Linked DNA regions of Homo sapiens: region 2 is linked to region 1. Evidence: fine-mapped expression QTL. A gene starts in region 1. The other region holds a variant in brackets. All regions are shown on one strand. Distances are between the middles of the regions. Region 1 holds the start of ENY2 (ENY2 transcription and export complex 2 subunit). Region 2 overlaps PKHD1L1 (PKHD1 like 1).

What was found. PIP is the estimated chance that this variant, and not a neighbour inherited with it, causes the effect.
Region 2: its variant is fine-mapped to the expression of ENY2 in whole blood (INTERVAL, PIP 0.98).

What each region holds. Positions count from the first base shown.
Region 1 is chr8:109,329,068-109,337,348 of GRCh38, forward strand. It overlaps ENY2 (ENY2 transcription and export complex 2 subunit), which reads left to right and starts at 5,280. Exons shown (of 5, transcript NM_020189.6): 1 at 5,280-5,407; 2 at 7,061-7,137. The coding sequence starts at 5,402. It overlaps NUDCD1 (NudC domain containing 1), which reads right to left and starts at 5,020. Exons shown (of 10, transcript NM_032869.4): 1 at 4,826-5,020. The coding sequence starts at 4,943. RefSeq lists enhancers at 4,712-4,761, 4,892-4,941, 5,124-6,046, 5,312-5,561.
Region 2 is chr8:109,397,648-109,405,992 of GRCh38, forward strand. PKHD1L1 (PKHD1 like 1) reads left to right here. Exons shown (of 78, transcript NM_177531.6): 12 at 812-901; 13 at 2,429-2,697; 14 at 3,850-3,941; 15 at 6,907-7,066; 16 at 7,348-7,483. Among named protein-coding and RNA genes, the nearest start is that of PKHD1L1, 39 kb to the left of the region's middle. The variant C/A (reference allele first, on the strand shown) is at 4,993.

The sequences.
Region 1 (8,281 bases):
TGAATATTACAATGTCCAAGATGAAAAATACACCAGATGGGATTAACAAGAGACTAATATTACAAAAAAAAAAAGTAAACGGAACTAAAGGCATGAAAATGGAAACTATTGGCAATAAAACAGAAAAAAGTATGAAGAAAAAATGAAACGGGCATTCATGAGCTGAGACCAACTTCTGTGATCTAAAAATGTGTAACTGGAGTCTTCAAAGGAGAAAAGGAGGGGAAAAAGTTGGAAGAAATAATAGCCAAAATATTGCCATTGATCTTGATAAAAACTATATGTCCGCAGTTTATAGCCCAACAAACCCCAAACATAAGAATCATAAAGAAAACCACAGCTGGCCACAATATTATCAAACTGCTCAAAACCAATGTAAAAGAGAAAAATCTTAAAACAGAAGAAAAAAGGCATGTTATGTATAGAGCAACAAAGATAGGATAATGTGAGATTTCTCATCAGAAACAATATAAGCAAGACTGAGGCTATAACTTTAAAGCATTGAAAGAAAAAACTGTCAACCTAGAATGCAGAAGGAGCAGAGAGATGGTTACAGAAGGGTACAAGGAAACTTTGGGAATGATAGCTAAGTTTAGTATCTTGATTGTGGTGATGATTTCACGGGTGTATACATATATCACAACTTCTTAAGTTGTACATTTTAAATTTGTAGTTTATTGTCAATTATGTCTTCATAAAGCTGTTTAATTTGTGAGACAAATTTATGTCCTACTTACCAGGCATGCTCCAACCCTGGAGATAAAGCATTGAAAACGATGGACATGGGACCCTTCAATACAAAATCAATAATCTTAGCAAAGAAAACATACTGGATGCTACGAAGTATGATAAAGTCTATGAAGTACTGGTTACTATGGCAACGCATAATACAGATTCTATAGTGTAGATTCTGACTAGTCAAGAAAGGAATCCCTGAGGAAGTAACATGTAAGCCAACATGAAAGAATGAAGTATGAATTAGCTAGGTGAAATATAGCTGGGAAACATATAAAAACATATAAAAAGACTTGTACTAAATGAAGATTCTAGGAAAAGGATATTTATAAATGCCTAGGAAGGAAATTGCCGGATCAAAAGACAATTACAATTTGATTAAAAATAAGTTTTTTGTTTCGTTCTTTGGAATAGAAAAAGACAAAGTGACATTTACTGCTTATGTAGCAAAGGAAATTTTGGTACAACTTAATAACATTATTTAAGACAAGAGAATAAGCCTCATTGCATCAAGTTCTTGACACCAGAGACCACATCATCTTTACATCTTAAATGCAGTGTTTCAGGTAGCCAAGGTGCCCATCAAAGGTTTGTGGAACTAAAGTGAACTCCTTCAGTTAGAATAAAAGAAATCAAATTACCAGAAGCGCCTCAATTATGCTTCACTATCTCTAGAAATGATAGTTTTTAAACAAAATAATCTTTTTCATCATCCTCAAGTAATTCCTAATGAAAAACTCATCATGTGAACTATTGCAAAAGCCTCCTATCTGCTGTGTGCAGTCATCTCATCTTCCAAACTCAACCTCCACAGAGTCTGAGGTAAGCTTTTCAACTCCCGTATCTGTTCACGTCCCTTGTACTTAAAATGTGGTACACATACGCCATGGAATACTATGCAGCCATAAAAAGGAACACAATCATATCCTTCAAAGGGACATGGAAGGAGCTGGAAGCCACTGTCCTCAACAAACCAACGAAGGAACAGAACACAAAACACCACATGTTCTCACTTGTAAGTGGGAGCTGAATAATGAGATCACATGGACACAGGGAGGGGAACAACACACACTGTGGTCTGTCAGAGAATGGGGTAGGGGGAGGGAGAGCATTAGGAAAAATTGCTAATGCATGCTGGGCTTAATACCTAGGTGATGGGTTGACGGGTGCAGCAAACCACCATGGCACACGTTTACCTATGTACCAAACCTGCACATCCTGCACATGTACCCCGGAACTTCAAAGAAAAAAAAAAATCGGTCGGAGCAGTGGCTCAGGCCTGTTAATCCCAGCACTTTGGGAGGCCGAGGCAGGTGGATCGCGAGGTCAGGAGTTCAAGACCAGCTTGGCCAAGATAGTAAAACTCCGTCTCTAATACAAAAATTAGCTGGGCTTGGTGGCGGGCACTTGTAATCCCAGCTACTCCAGAGGCTGGGGCAGAGAACTGCTTGAACCCGGGAGGCGGAAGTTGCAGTGAGCTGAGATCGCGCCACTGCACTCCAGCCTCAACGACAGAGACTCCGTCTCAAAAAACAAAACAAAAACAAAAAGAAACAAACAAAAATTAGCTGGGCATGGTGGCGGGCGCCTGTAATCCCAACTACTCGGGAGGCTGAGGCAGGAGAATCGCCTGAACCCGGAAGGCAGAGGTTGCAATGAGACGAGATCACACTACTACAGTCCAGCCTCCGCAATAGAGCAAGACTCAGACTCAAAAAAAAAAAAAAAAAAAAAAATCTTCAAATGGCACCTGATATCCTGCAGCTGTACATCCCAAACACAGAATCTAAGATTAACGCTGATGAAATGAGTACGGAACAAGGACAACTTTGTGAATTTTTTCTAAAGTTAAAGTATTCAATGGATTGTTTATTGTGAGATTTTGCTTCCTGCTTTTTTGGTGTTAAAATATCCTTTTGTTTATGAAAAGATAGATGAGTAAATGATAGTTTTTAAGAAACATCTCCACCTAGTAAACAGAAAAGTTGGCAGAACTACAGCAGCTGAGTTTTATTTTATATTGTAATGGCTCAATACAAAAATGTCAGGGAAACACTGAATGACCGGAAATCCAAGAAATCCAAAAGGCAAACAAGGCCCTCACTGATTTATTTCCTCTCACTTTCCCAGACGTTTTGCTCCAGCAATATAAGAGTGCAAGGATGTCCAGCATACAACCTACTAATTATTTCCCTTTCCTCATGCTTTCCCATGAATGGAATGACCTCAACAATTTCTTCTCTTCTTCATATACTCATTTTATTGAATACATCCTATGTGCCAAGCACTAGATATAGGGTAGTGAACAAAAGAAAAACATCACTGTTTTCAAGGAACTCATAGTCTAGTGGAGGAAACAGACAACAAATCAAGATAGAATTTAAAAGGCCGATAAGTACGTCTTATGGAGAATGCAATGACGAAGCCCAAAAGTGAAGGCAGGAAGGCTAGTCAGGAGGCTACTAGAGTTCAGGTAAGAGATAACTCTGATTTGGATTAGGGTGGAGGCCTAGAGATATCAAAATGTGGAGCTGACCGGACTTGCTACCAAGCAGACAGTGGCTAAAAGAAATAAACCCCAAATGACTCTGGCACAAGTGTCTCTTGGTACCAACCTGGGCTAGTCTAGTCGGCTAAAGGATAAGAGACCACACGGAGAAAAGTCAAGAGGAGACCATGTGAAAGAATCTTAAACAAGCTTATAGTCTGAGACCCTACCCCCACCCTCCAAACATATGAGGAAGTCCAGCCAAATGAGCAGAGCTTCCCAGCAGATCCATTACTGAACAAGGATGCATCAATGAGCCCAACTAGGACTAGAAGAACCACTCAGCTGACCCGTAGACTTGTGAGCAATAATAACTGCTTCTTGTTTTGAGACACTGAATTTTGGCTTCACTTTCTAATGCACTAACTAAACATGGTGATACCATCTACTGACATGGGGTGACTGGAAGAAACACGGTGGCAAAGAGGAAAAGGAAAAAAATAAAAAGAAAAATCAAGCTTATCCTCTCTCATCCTAGTCAACTCTTAACCTACCCTTCAAAGCTCAACTTAGATATTAACTCCTCCAAGACGCCTTCCCAGATCCCCAGACTAGTTTAGGAAAGATATTCAAGTACTACCATTGTATTTTGTACATATCCCTATCACTGCCTTCCCATATTGTTTTACAATTATCTGTTTACAATTTTCTTCCTAACTAGCTAATAGTCCTCTTTTGTTACGGAAGGTGTCTTGTTCATTTTGATATTATCAGGACGTAACACAAAACAGGTACTCGGTAAATATTTCTGAATTTAATAAATCAATTAGCATAAACTTATTTTATACTTTAATGTCTGTTATTATAATTAACTGTAGATCACTATTTCTCAAAGTGTGATCTCTGAAAACATGCATCAGAATCAGCAGGGGTGTGAATTTTAAAATGCAGATCTCTGGGCTCTATCATAACGAAAATGCCGTTAAGTTGTAAAAACAAGAGTAAGGATATTCTACCAGCTACAGATAAAGCAAGGAGTAGCAGTGTGGGAGTAAATCCACTTTTCCTCACTATCTTCTAGAGATGTTCTCTACCAGAGTTCTTAATGTGCCAGGAACTGAGTAATTAAAAATGCTATGACTGGAATGTAGTTTCTCTTCTAAGAAACGGCTCTCGGTCAGAGGAAACAGGAACTGGGGGTCCTCCAAGGAGGTGTGGTTTCTCAACGCACACGTTCACAAGCGATGCTCCAGGAGGAAGGAATGTTCTCAGCGTCCCCCGAAACAGAAGCCAGGCTGTGGACACACAGCAGCCAGAGCCCCAGGCACTACCCGCACGCCAGCCCTCAGACCTCAGACCTCAGAGGCTGGGCTGCTGACGGAGGGGGCCCAGGGTCCCGTTACCGAAGAGCGCGCGAAGGCGGCTCCCACCGGGTTCTGGGATGGGCATCATTCCCCAGAAGCAGCGGCCTCCGTGAGTCCACGCAAGCCGCCACGGTGGCTTCGCTTGCCAGTCAGAAAGAAAGAAATTGCGGGAAGGGTCAGGCCGGAGGCAGCCGAAAGGGGAAAGGAACGGAGTACGAAGGGCGCCGCCGCTTCCCACCTGCGTCAAGCTCCAGCTGGTAACAAGGCAGCGGCTCAAGAGAGAGCTTGTAACCCTCGAAGCGGGGATCCAACAGAGGTCTCTTCACCCGTAGGGAGCAATTAGCCGCCACCTCCATCGCTTTCCAGGGCCGCAGCGTGAGAATTAATAAAGCCCTTGTTGAAAGGTCCGCGCTTCACGCCTCGCACAGAGACTGGGAAGCGGCGTGGTTCCCATCCCAGAAAACACTGCGGTGCGAACTGCCTTCTGGGAAATGTAGTGTCCGTGAAAAAGTTGAGACTGTTGCATGCTGGGCTATGTAGTTCTCCTGGTACTTAACGCGCGCGCGACGGCAAGGTCTGAACTCTGTTACCCAGAGGCCCTAGCAACCAGGAGGCGGCCCGCGCTGGTTAAATTCTCACATTATAGGCAGGGTGGCGAGACCCCGCCCCGGAAATGCGTGTTCTAGCTTTCTGTGTGCTTAGGTGCCCGAGCTACTGAGGGTCTAAGTCCGGGCAGCCGAAGAGTGTGGTAGGTAACGGTCCTCAGCGCAAGGGTCATTTCGTCGCTGGGAAGGGACGGCCCTCGCCCGCGGTGATGGTGGTGAGCTATGCCCGTGGTCCTCAGGGCCGGGACCCGGGCCCAGCCCAGGCTCCTTTCGATGTACTGTCTTTCGTTAGCGTCCCCGACCCGCGCTCGCGGGCCTGTAGGGCTCTCCGACAGGGCGTGCTACCGGAGTTGGCCTGAAACCAGTCCTCGCTTTGTTTTCTGGCTCCTCCTCTCCCGCCTCTCCCGCTGTCTCCGCCCTGTTCTATTTTCCCTAAGAATGTCTGAACTGGGAGGGATACCCTAGCGCCCTTGTTTTACCAGTGAGAAAACTGAGGCCTTTAAGAATTAAGTGACTTGTCCAAGGTCACTATCCGTATTTTAGGAGCCAAGACGAGATCAAGTTCAATATTCCAGGAGTGGTACTGACTAGACCTTGTAGTTATTTTGAAAATGTTAGCCTCCAATTACAAAAGCAAGCATTTCCTAGTTCTCACTCAACTTCTCCTTTTCCCTGTTCCTCTCAAAAAAGAAAAAAAAAATCAACTCTGGTAACTCATTGCCAGTCTGAATTTTCAATAGGCCAGATGGAAGACAACAAAAGTAATCTCAAGTTAGTGACAGATTAGGTGGGAAAACGTTAGTTTACGCCAAGTTTTATTTAATTTAAACTTTTAAGTGGCTTTAACGCTTTCAAAACCTAACTTTCCTCTTCTTTCAACATCATTTTGGTTTGGGTTGTCTGTTTTTACTGACAATTGAGGACTTTGTAAGTTAGGAATTAGTTTGAGATTTGTTTTCTTCTTATCCCACCAGCAGTGTGTGTGTAAACACACACATCCACACACTTAGGTTTAGCAGTTGTAATTGTGGGTTCATCCTAGTGAAGAGTAAAGCAAAACACTTAGAGCCTTATCTAGTAATTTTATTTTTTTTGATTAATTAATTTTTTTTTTTTTTTTTGAGACAGAGTCTTGCCCTGTCACCCAGGCTGGAGTGCAGCAGCGCAATGTCGGCTCACTGCAACCTCTGTCTCCTGGGTTCAAGCGATTCTCCTGCCTCAGCCTCCTGAGTAGCTGGGATTACAGACACCTGCCACCAAGCCCAGCTTATTTTTCTATTTTTAGTAGAGACGGGGTTTCACCATCTTGGTCAGGCTGGTCTTGAACTCCTGACCTCGTGATCCACCTGCCTGGGCCTCCCAAAGTGCTGGGATTACAGGTGTGACCCACTGTGCCCGGCCTGGTAATTTTATTTTTTTACTAATAGTATTTAATCTTTTTTTGATGTTTAGTATGTATGACTTCTCCCAATTTTTGGATGCAGTCTCTGCAGAAGTGATCGGCAGTTATGTTCAGTTTTGGAGCTCCTAGGGTCAAAGTACTTGAGTTCAAATTTTGCCTTTCCACTTTCTATCTCTGTGCCTCAGTTTCCTCATCAGTAAAATACAGATTATTTTATTAATATAAATATGTAACAATACGTTCTGGGAATTAAATGTGATGTTTAAAAAAAAGCAAACCCACACTGCATTAGCCCAGTGCCAAGCACATAAGTGTTTAATAAAGAGTAATGATATTATTAACACACTTGAAATGTATCACCCCTTCAGTTAATAGAATGGTAAACATGTTAGGATGCCTGCCTAGAGGATTTAGCAGAAAATGCTTTGTAAATGTTCTATATCTGAAAGTACATGTTGATGTCCAGGTTAGCAAGATGAACAAAGATGCGCAGATGAGAGCAGCGATTAACCAAAAGTTGATAGAAACTGGAGAAAGAGAACGGTAAGTAATAGATTGTGTTAATAAATTACATTTCACCGCCTTTAATAGTTAGCTTGTAAGAATCTAAACAAGAAATGAAACATGTCACTGGAAAGAATTACAATTGAGATTATAAAAGTTTCTATTCCGAACATCTGGAAAAAATAATTTAGGTTTGTTAAGTATTGCAGGACTTGGAGGGAAGTGGTGATGTAGAAAGATGAGCAAGATATGGCTCTTAAAGAGTAATTTGATGGAGAAGAAAAAGTACATACCTGAATTACAACTGGAGACATAATGTTACCTGGGTTTTAACAGGGAGACAATGTTGTGGAACCAGCTTCATTTACCAAGCTCTCAACCTTGGAGCAGCAAGTGCTGTTTCCACTCTCTAAAACATTCTTCCTTCTCTTCCTTTTTAGCTAATTCTAGCTCAACTATCAGGTCTAATTTATATATTGTCTCTTCAAGGAATGTTTTTAAGTCCCAAATACCTTGTTCCATCATAGCATTTAATCAACATTGTGTTCTAACAATCTACTTGGCTAGTTTGTATCCTCCAGTATAATCTAAGTTCTTTAACACCAAAAACAACATTGTATACCCAGCATCTAATGCTTTGTTTGGTTCATAATTGGCCACGTAAATATTTGCAGAATCAACAGGTTTAGAAGTACAAAGAAGGGGCTGAGGAATCAAGAAAGGCTCCCAGAGGCAGGGTTATAAAGTGAGTAAGACAAATATGTATAAGGAAGAGGCAAATATGTATAAGGAAGAGGGGGAATCTTTCAACTCAACCCGGGCATTCAGGTGATCATGTAAGATCTCACACAATAAGAAAAAGAGGTGCATCTGTTGCTGACTTTATTTTTGGATGATGGGAGTCATTTAAAGTTTTAAGAAAGGAAATGACTAGATCACATTTACACTTTAGGAATCTTACTCTGTTGGTGTGGAGCTTGGACTTGAAGGGGACAAGATAGATGGCAGAAAAATGAGGTAGAAGATTATATAGGGTTGAAAATGGAAAACTCCAAAAATTGGAAGGAGACCTTAGAATTTTAATAAAATGTAGAAACAGCAACCCTCAAAATGAGGAAGGAGGCATCGATAACTGCCTTGGGTAGCTTTAGAGGATAGTACTGCTGGTAAGGAGTACGGATTG
Region 2 (8,345 bases), 69 kb after region 1:
CCACTGCACTCCAGCCTGGGTGACAGAGCAAGACCCTGACTCAAAAAACACACAAACAATAAAATAGTGAAAAGTATTGTCAAAATTTAAATTTTCCAGGCTATCAAACAAAACTTGGCAAAAATATCTCTCTCCATTTCCCTTGTCCTCACATTTCATGGGCTGCAATTGCCATTTCAGTGAATACTTTCTGAGGGCTGACCATATGTGAGGCATTGTGAGGAACACATGGAGGTTTAAAACATAGACTCTTCTCCTAAGTCTAATTGTGCTTATGTAAAAGTTACAATAGCTATCTTTTAGCCTTTTTTCCTGTTTTGGTTTCAGTCTGTCTGTGAAAATGCCATTTAACAATTATTATCCCCCTTTTTTTTTCATTTGAAGAACTTGGACTAAGCCAGCACTTTTTTCTACTGAAGAGGTCTAGGGTCATCTACCTTTGCAAATTCTGAATGACATGGGTTTATTCAGCAACTTCTCTCCAAGGAACAAAATATAAGTTTTTACTTTGAATTCAGAAGTAACATTTTGTGCAAAGACATAGTATTATCAAATTTTTTATCTCAGAAATTATGAAATTTTCTATCTCAGTCTTGTGATTTTCCACCAGAAAAAAATGTTGCTTTTTGGAAGTATGACAATTATTATGTGAAAAGCTTTAATAGAGAATATGTAAAGGAAATAAAGAGCCCTAATTTTGCCTCTTGTTTATGCAACTTTGTTTTAATTGCAAAAGTGCTTAAAGATACACTGATGTGATTTGCATTCTGAAGTTTCAGTAGTAACGGTTTTGTATCTTGCTTCTCTATAGGTGAACCTTGTGATATTTTGAATGTCACAGAAAATAGTATATGTTGCAAGACACCCCCCAAACCTCATATTCTCAAAACTGTATATCCAGGTAAGTTACCATAAGGGACAATGGCCATTTCTATATTCACATAAAAAGAATATATTAGTAAAAAATATTATTTAAATTTTTAGAATTTAGAATTTGTAGTAAGAATTGTAAGAAATTTCCTCCAAGTTTTAAAATTTACATTTTCTGGATTAGAAAATATTTCTATTAAAATAGCTGCCACAAAGCTGTACCTATGGAGAAAAACCCAGCCTAAATTATCAAGACACCCTACTGAAAATAGCACATCTCTACTGACAGAGTTTAATTATGCTTTTATTTCTAATTAAATTATGATAACTAAAACTTGGTATAGTCTACATAGAAATTTTTTAAATGCCTTTTTCTGATTAAAAAAAGATAAATAGGGGAAGTTAAATATTCACTTGTCTAGAATAATGTGGGAGTGAAAACAGGAGATGAGAGAAATGTTACTCTAAATTCTTTTCAGACTTACACCTTGTGGCTCAGTGAAATTGCTTTCCTATCTACACTAATATCATTGAAATGCTGTACATGTGTCTGCGTGTGGTGTGTATCTCATATCTTGTTCGCACCGTGAATGTTGTTTATAATCGTGTCATTGTTTCACATTTGAAGCCAAATGAATCGTTTATGAACCTCTTAAATTTGTTTGGTTTGAATATTAGAAAAAAATGAACAGTTTAAGAAAATAATTTTGATAATTTATAATTGATGACTTTAAAGAAAATTGTGTATATCACTAGACACTGCTTCTGTGAAAGTTTGAAGTGCTCAAAGCTTATCTTCAACCAAATTCAGCTGAAGAAGGGTAGCCATTATTTTCCACATACAGAAAAGCTTAAGGCTGCTAAAGGAAGAAGTAAGCCTAATTGTTGTTGCAGTTGAAGGAAAAAAAAAAGAGAGATGGCTCTTTTCTGATTAGGAAAAAATTTAATCACAGGGTTTATTCTGGCAAGTATAGGTACAGTTTATTGAGAGTATCCTGTTTTTGATTCTGTCCAAGAAGGAGAAGAAATCCTAGAGTAGAAGTAATGTTTTTTTTAAAAAGTAAAACAAACATTGAGAGAAATCTGAAAGCCAACAATTTCTCTTCTCTGATTAATGGCTTTGTAAGCCATTAATTTACTTTTGTTAGAATAGTCAAGGCAAAGGTTTTGTAATAAAATGGCATGAATCTTGAAGTTTCGCAACATCAGTTATATCATAATAATTACTATATATTATCTTACATAAAGCACTTTTTAAATGCCAGCTGTTTTACATGTGTATTATACATAATCCCTATAGCACCCATGCAAATATTATTATTACTCCCATTTTACATATGTGGAAACTGAGGCTCAAATAAGTGAAGTAATAATGAACAAATTACAGACTGCCCTCTGGCTGCAGATACGTGTAGGGGAATGTGTAATTGTTTTGTCTGCACACATACTAAAAATATGAATTGATATACAAAATCTATAACCAACATCCAAATAGAAAGCCATTGAGGCATTGCATTATGATCCTGATGAAAGTCTTATTTTATTTCATTACACTTAGGAGGGAGAGGCCTGAAGCTTGAGGTGTGGAATAATAGCCGTCCAATACGTTTGGAAGAGATACTGGAATACAATGAAAAAACGCCTGGGTACATGGGTGCCAGTTGGGTAGATTCAGCTTCCTATATTTGGCTCATGGAACAAGACACATTTGTTGCACGCTTTAGTGGATTTTTGGTGGCTCCAGATTCTGATGTTTATAGATTCTACATCAAGGGTGATGACCGTTATGCTATTTATTTTAGCCAGACTGGACTTCCAGAAGATAAGGTAGGGAAGCCTCAGAATACTATTTGATACTGTAAAAACATTATGGTGATATTTATATGTATCTTACTCTAAATCAAAACGAATGAACATTTTTAAAATGTATGAGAAATGATGTCATGTGGTTTGGCTCTTGGCTATTATCCTGGATATGATACAAGATATAAGATGATAGAAAACCTATAGCCTACAAGAAAATTTCCCGTACCTGAAAATATTTCATTATTCTACATTAACTTGGTTATGAGATAAAATTCATCTCTCTATTTTTTATAAATAGAATTATACATTTAATTTCATATGTAGTTTTTCACATATTAGTATTAAATACTAATTTTATTAAATAATTTATGTAATCACTAGTTTTAATGACTAAGCAGTGTTATTACTTGGGTTTACCAAGCTTAGATAACCATCTCCCTACTGATAAGTTTTTATTTACTTCTGGTGTTTTATGACCACAAATAATACTCTATTGAACATCTATGATCATTAGACTTTTCTGTATTTGGGGTTACTTTGTTAGGACAGTTTCACAAATATGAAACTAACAGATCAAATCAAAGTAACATTTTATGACTCAACTTATGTGGCAAGATTGCTTCCCAAACTGGTTGTGTAAGTTTAAATTGCTATCTGTAATTTATGAATTCTAATTTTTATCATAGTTTGTACTCCAAAGCATGTGTACTCCAAAGGTGGTATAATCATTCCTAATGGGAAGCCCAAAGTCCTCTCACTCTAGTGTGCAGAACCATTTAGCAATCTTTGGCAATCTAATTTGGATTAAATCTCTCAAAGTTCTCCACAGAGCAAAAGAATATTTTATTTGTCAATAACTACCTTTTTCCTGGTAAGTATCTTCTTAGTTTCCACTGCAGTTCTAATTATGGAAAAGCTATGATCTGCGTAGTATACTTAGTACAGTAGTGTTGATGTTAGTGAATGGTAGAAGGAATGAAGTGAACTTTGATAATTTAAAAAAAATTTATAGCATAGTAGATAACAGATCTTAAAAGAAAAATATAAAGTAGTTTTACATTTTTCTACTTATGAAACTTCTAAAACTGAAATAATAAATGATAAATAAATAAATGTTGAAAAGGTCTATTAATAAATTCTCCCTTTTCTCTGTCTCTGTCTCTCTCGGATTAGGTGAGGATTGCATATCATTCTGCTAATGCCAACAGTTATTTTTCCAGTCCAACACAAAGATCAGATGATATTCATCTGCAGAAAGGAAAAGAGTAAGGCTTTTTCCTGTCATTAAATTACTGTGTGGTATTTATAAGCTTTAAGTTTATATTTTAAAATATTTTCAATTTATTTTTATTGGTGGAAGTGATATTAGTTTATTGGTTTAATTTATAATTGGTCATTCTCTATAATTTTATTCAAATGTGTTTCTTGATTTTCAAGAATACTGGCATTCAACTAACCAGGGAAATTTGAAGTCTAGATTAACCCTGTTGCAAAATTATACTTTTGTGAAATGTACTTGATCCTGTTCTTAGTTCTTTACTTGGACCTTTCAGTCAATCCACCCATTTAATTTCTCTGTTCCTGCAGCTGAGCTCTTCAGTATTGCTAGGGAAAAATCACTAAGCCACATAGATTGTTGCCACTTTTAATATGTATTTGTTATTAACTGGTTTATTCCAGGCCCTGGGCCAGGTACTGGAAATTTAAGAATATTAAAATACACTGCCAGAACTGAAAGAGCATTCATTTAGTGTTGAAAGGTCAAGTCCAAGGAGCCAATGAGTGGGATTATCATCCAAATACCAGATAATCCCATTCAAAAAGCCATTCAGAATTCCTAGGAAACAGGAAGATAAAAGACATGATACATTGAAAATGGAGAAGGTGGTGGAATGGAGTTACATGAAGAACATCAAAAGATGCATTTGCATCTGCTAGACTTTACTATATAACAAAGCACCTCAGACTGTAGCAACATCAAACAAGTGTGAATTATTTTGCACAATTTTATAGTTGGCTGAGCGGTTCTTTTAGTCCTGGCTGGTTTATTTGGGGACTGGTAACCTAGAATGCCTCACTCCATGTCTAGAGCCTCAGCAGGCATGGTTGAGTCTTAGATATTTGGGGCATCCCATTGCACATGGTCTCTCATCATCCAGGAGACTAGCCCCGGTTTGTCACATTGTGGATAGCTAATGCATACTGGGCTTAATACCTAGGTGATGATGGGTTGATAGGTGCAGTAAAGAGGGGAGTCCTAATGCACACACACTCTGCAATACTCTGTCTGTGTCATATTTGCTAATATCCCATTGC[C/A]CAAAGCAAGTGGCCAAGCCTAGACTCAAGGATGAAGAAATAGACTTCCCTTCTTGATGGGAGGAGTGCTTTTTTCTTTTAAGTTTACCACATCACCCTTTCAGATATTGAAGAAGTTATGCTCAGAGGCAGCATCATGAGGATCTTTTGGAATTGGACAAGGAGGGTTGGGATCAATGGAACCTGGGAGCAAATTAATGTTCTCACACTCAATGTTCTTGCTGAGGTCTTAGTAATACTGACATGGGGAAAGAGTTTCATTCCTTTTTTATCCTCTTTCTTCTGCTTTCACTTCTTTAGACATTAAACATTTTCTTCTATAACCATGAAAACTACTGGGCCAGGTCAAGATAAATGGAGTTCTTGATTAATCCCTACTGCAATTAAGTGTCAGTACATTTTCAGACTTTGGCTTGGTTTTGGAAAATGAGTTCAGTCTACCAGCTAGGCAGGAGCACAGAGTTTGAATGAAAGCAACTCCTAATACATCTGCTGCCTGGTATCTGTGCTCCTGCAAAACCAGCTTGGAATTTACATACTGTGCTTACAATGATGGCTATGAAATCTGAAATTGAGGCCACTCTAGCTGGTTTATTGTAAAGTGGCTCTTCAAGTCTTTCCAAAGGTAGCTCATATTGCTAAATCATTTTACTCAAATATTAAAAACATAGCTTCACCTAGTGCATATCTTTTTGGTCACCTTATTTTGTTTGGAATTCTCCCTCAGTTACTAGTTTAAAAAATTTTGAATCCTTAAAATTCCCTTAGCATTTGTTATTCATATGGATAAAGGAATAATATCTATTTTATGAGAATTTTGTGAAGATTAAACGTAATAATGTCTGCAAAGTGCTTAGTTTATTGTCTAGCACAAAGAAAGTGCCCAATTAATAGTTTTAAGCCACAAGTAAGGATGCAAAATTTTAATGGTTCTTCTTTGAATTCTGCTCTTTAATTAGTGTTGGTCATCTCAAGTCAGAAGAGCTGATGAGCAGGTTCTTATGGAAGTCAAGAGCCTGATATAATCCCCAAATATCAGTTCCATTGGGCAATGATCCAGAACCCTATCATTCTACACATATGAAACATGATAAATTTCCCTCATTCAGACTCTTTCATGAACTGTGGATACTTATTCTTCCTATATAAGAATATATGTTGAGTGATGTGAGACAATTTAGGGAAGCTCCCAGCTGTCCTCTCCAAAGATGTGAGCAATGGTGACATTGCTAGAGATTTAGAGGAGAAGTAGTAGTTTTGCACTCTCTTGTTAACAGCTGCTCAGTGAAGGCACTACCTTGGGTACACAGTAGGATGAGGGGCAGGAGACATCAAGAATCAGGAATTCAAAATATAAAGTGAAAATCCCATCCAGCTAATTGGAGGATCATAGTAAATCTGACCGGTAAAAGTTTCCTGAGGCAATGTTTTATTCCCCAAGTTACAAATGGAGCCAAATTTAAGGAATGTGAAAGTAGGAACTTCTACTCCTGACAAATATAACTACTCAGATATAAAATATATGCTATGTCTAAGCCTGCCATTTTCTTGAACACATTAAAATATTTAACCTCTGCATGTTGTCTGTGTTATATACCAGGGACAGGGTTATTTTTCAAGATGTTGAGTATAAGAAATAGTATTGTCTTCTATAAATATTTATTGACTAAGCTGAATGAATTGGTTATGAATGAGAACAACTTTCTACTAATGCAGATATCTTACATAATTCATTTTATTTTGGCAAAATGCTGTGAAAATTTTAACATTTGAATATTTAAAATATGAGATACTACAATATAAGTCATTTAACAGGCAGGCTTTTAAGATAATATTGATATTTTATTCATTAAAATAATTTCATGGCAAGTGTTCTGGAAAAAAGTTATATTCATTAGTTACTCTATTTTCCAGATACTATATTGAAATCTTGCTGCAGGAGTACAGATTAAGTGCATTTGTTGATGTTGGACTGTACCAGTATCGAAATGTTTATACTGAACAACAAACAGGAGATGCAGTGAATGAAGAACAAGTTATCAAATCCCAGTCGACAATCCTCCAGGAAGTACAGGTTTGCTATGATTGCAGTTCCTCTTACAGAAAGTAAATGTTCGAAGGCAGGATCTCAATTTGATTATTAATTTTACTAGGTAAGATACTGTTTTAGGTGAAAGCAGTCATGGACAATTATTAAATTATGACTTTGAGTATTTGTACGATAAGCCAAAAAGGCTGTTACTTGTCATTTGTAGTAAAATAGAGCAATAAAGTGGCATTGAATAGCTGAATTATGATGCTTTTAAGATATATATATTTTTCATATATTAAAAATGTTTCTTAATTGGAAAATAGGTTATAACATTGGAAAACTGGGAAACAACTAATGCAATTAATGAGGTTCAGAAGATCAAGGTAACCAGCCCATGTGTGGAAGCTAATTCATGTTCACTTTACCAATATAGATTAATCTATAATATGGAAAAAACTGGTAAGTTATAAATAATAAGGGAGATACTGTTTCTGTTCATGTATAGATGTAGTCATAAAGTATTTGCTGTAGTCAAATTACACTGTCTGGAAAATATAGTTTTGATGATATGCTAGACAAAGAAGCAGAAAAATGTATTATGGAAAAAAGCCTTCAGACTGGGATAGAAAATGACATCCATACAAATAACTTTGTGGCATATACCATCATTTTCTAATAATAATGATAAATATATATCTAAATGCACATGGAATTTATATATTTGCTACTCATAGGTGTAAGTTAAGAAAATAGGAATTGTGAATAGTCAACCCAAATGCCCGTCAATGATAGACTGGATAAAGAAAATGTGGTACACCATAGAATACTATGCAGCCATAAAAAGGGATGAGATCATGTCCTTTTCAGGGACATGGATGGAGCTTAAAGCCACTTCCTCAACAAACTAACTCAGGAACAGAAAACCAAACACTGCATGTTCTCACTTATAAGTGGGAGCTGAACAATGAGAACACATGGACACAGGGAGGGGAACAACACACACTGGGGCCTGTTGGGGGGTGGGGTCGGCACGGGGAGGGCATTAGGTTAGGAAAAATAGCTAATGCATACTGGGCTTAATACCTAGGTGATGATGGGTTGATAGGTGCAGCAAACCACCATGACATACGTTTACCTATGTAACAAACATGCACATCCTGCACATGTACCCCAGAACTTACAATAAAAATAAAAAATTTAAAAGGAATTAAATTCATCATTGCACAGAAGTAAACATGTCTTTCAATTTTTTAAATTAAATGATAGGCCTATGGAACACCAATTTATCAGCCAATAAACAACATTGCATTTCTATATTTTA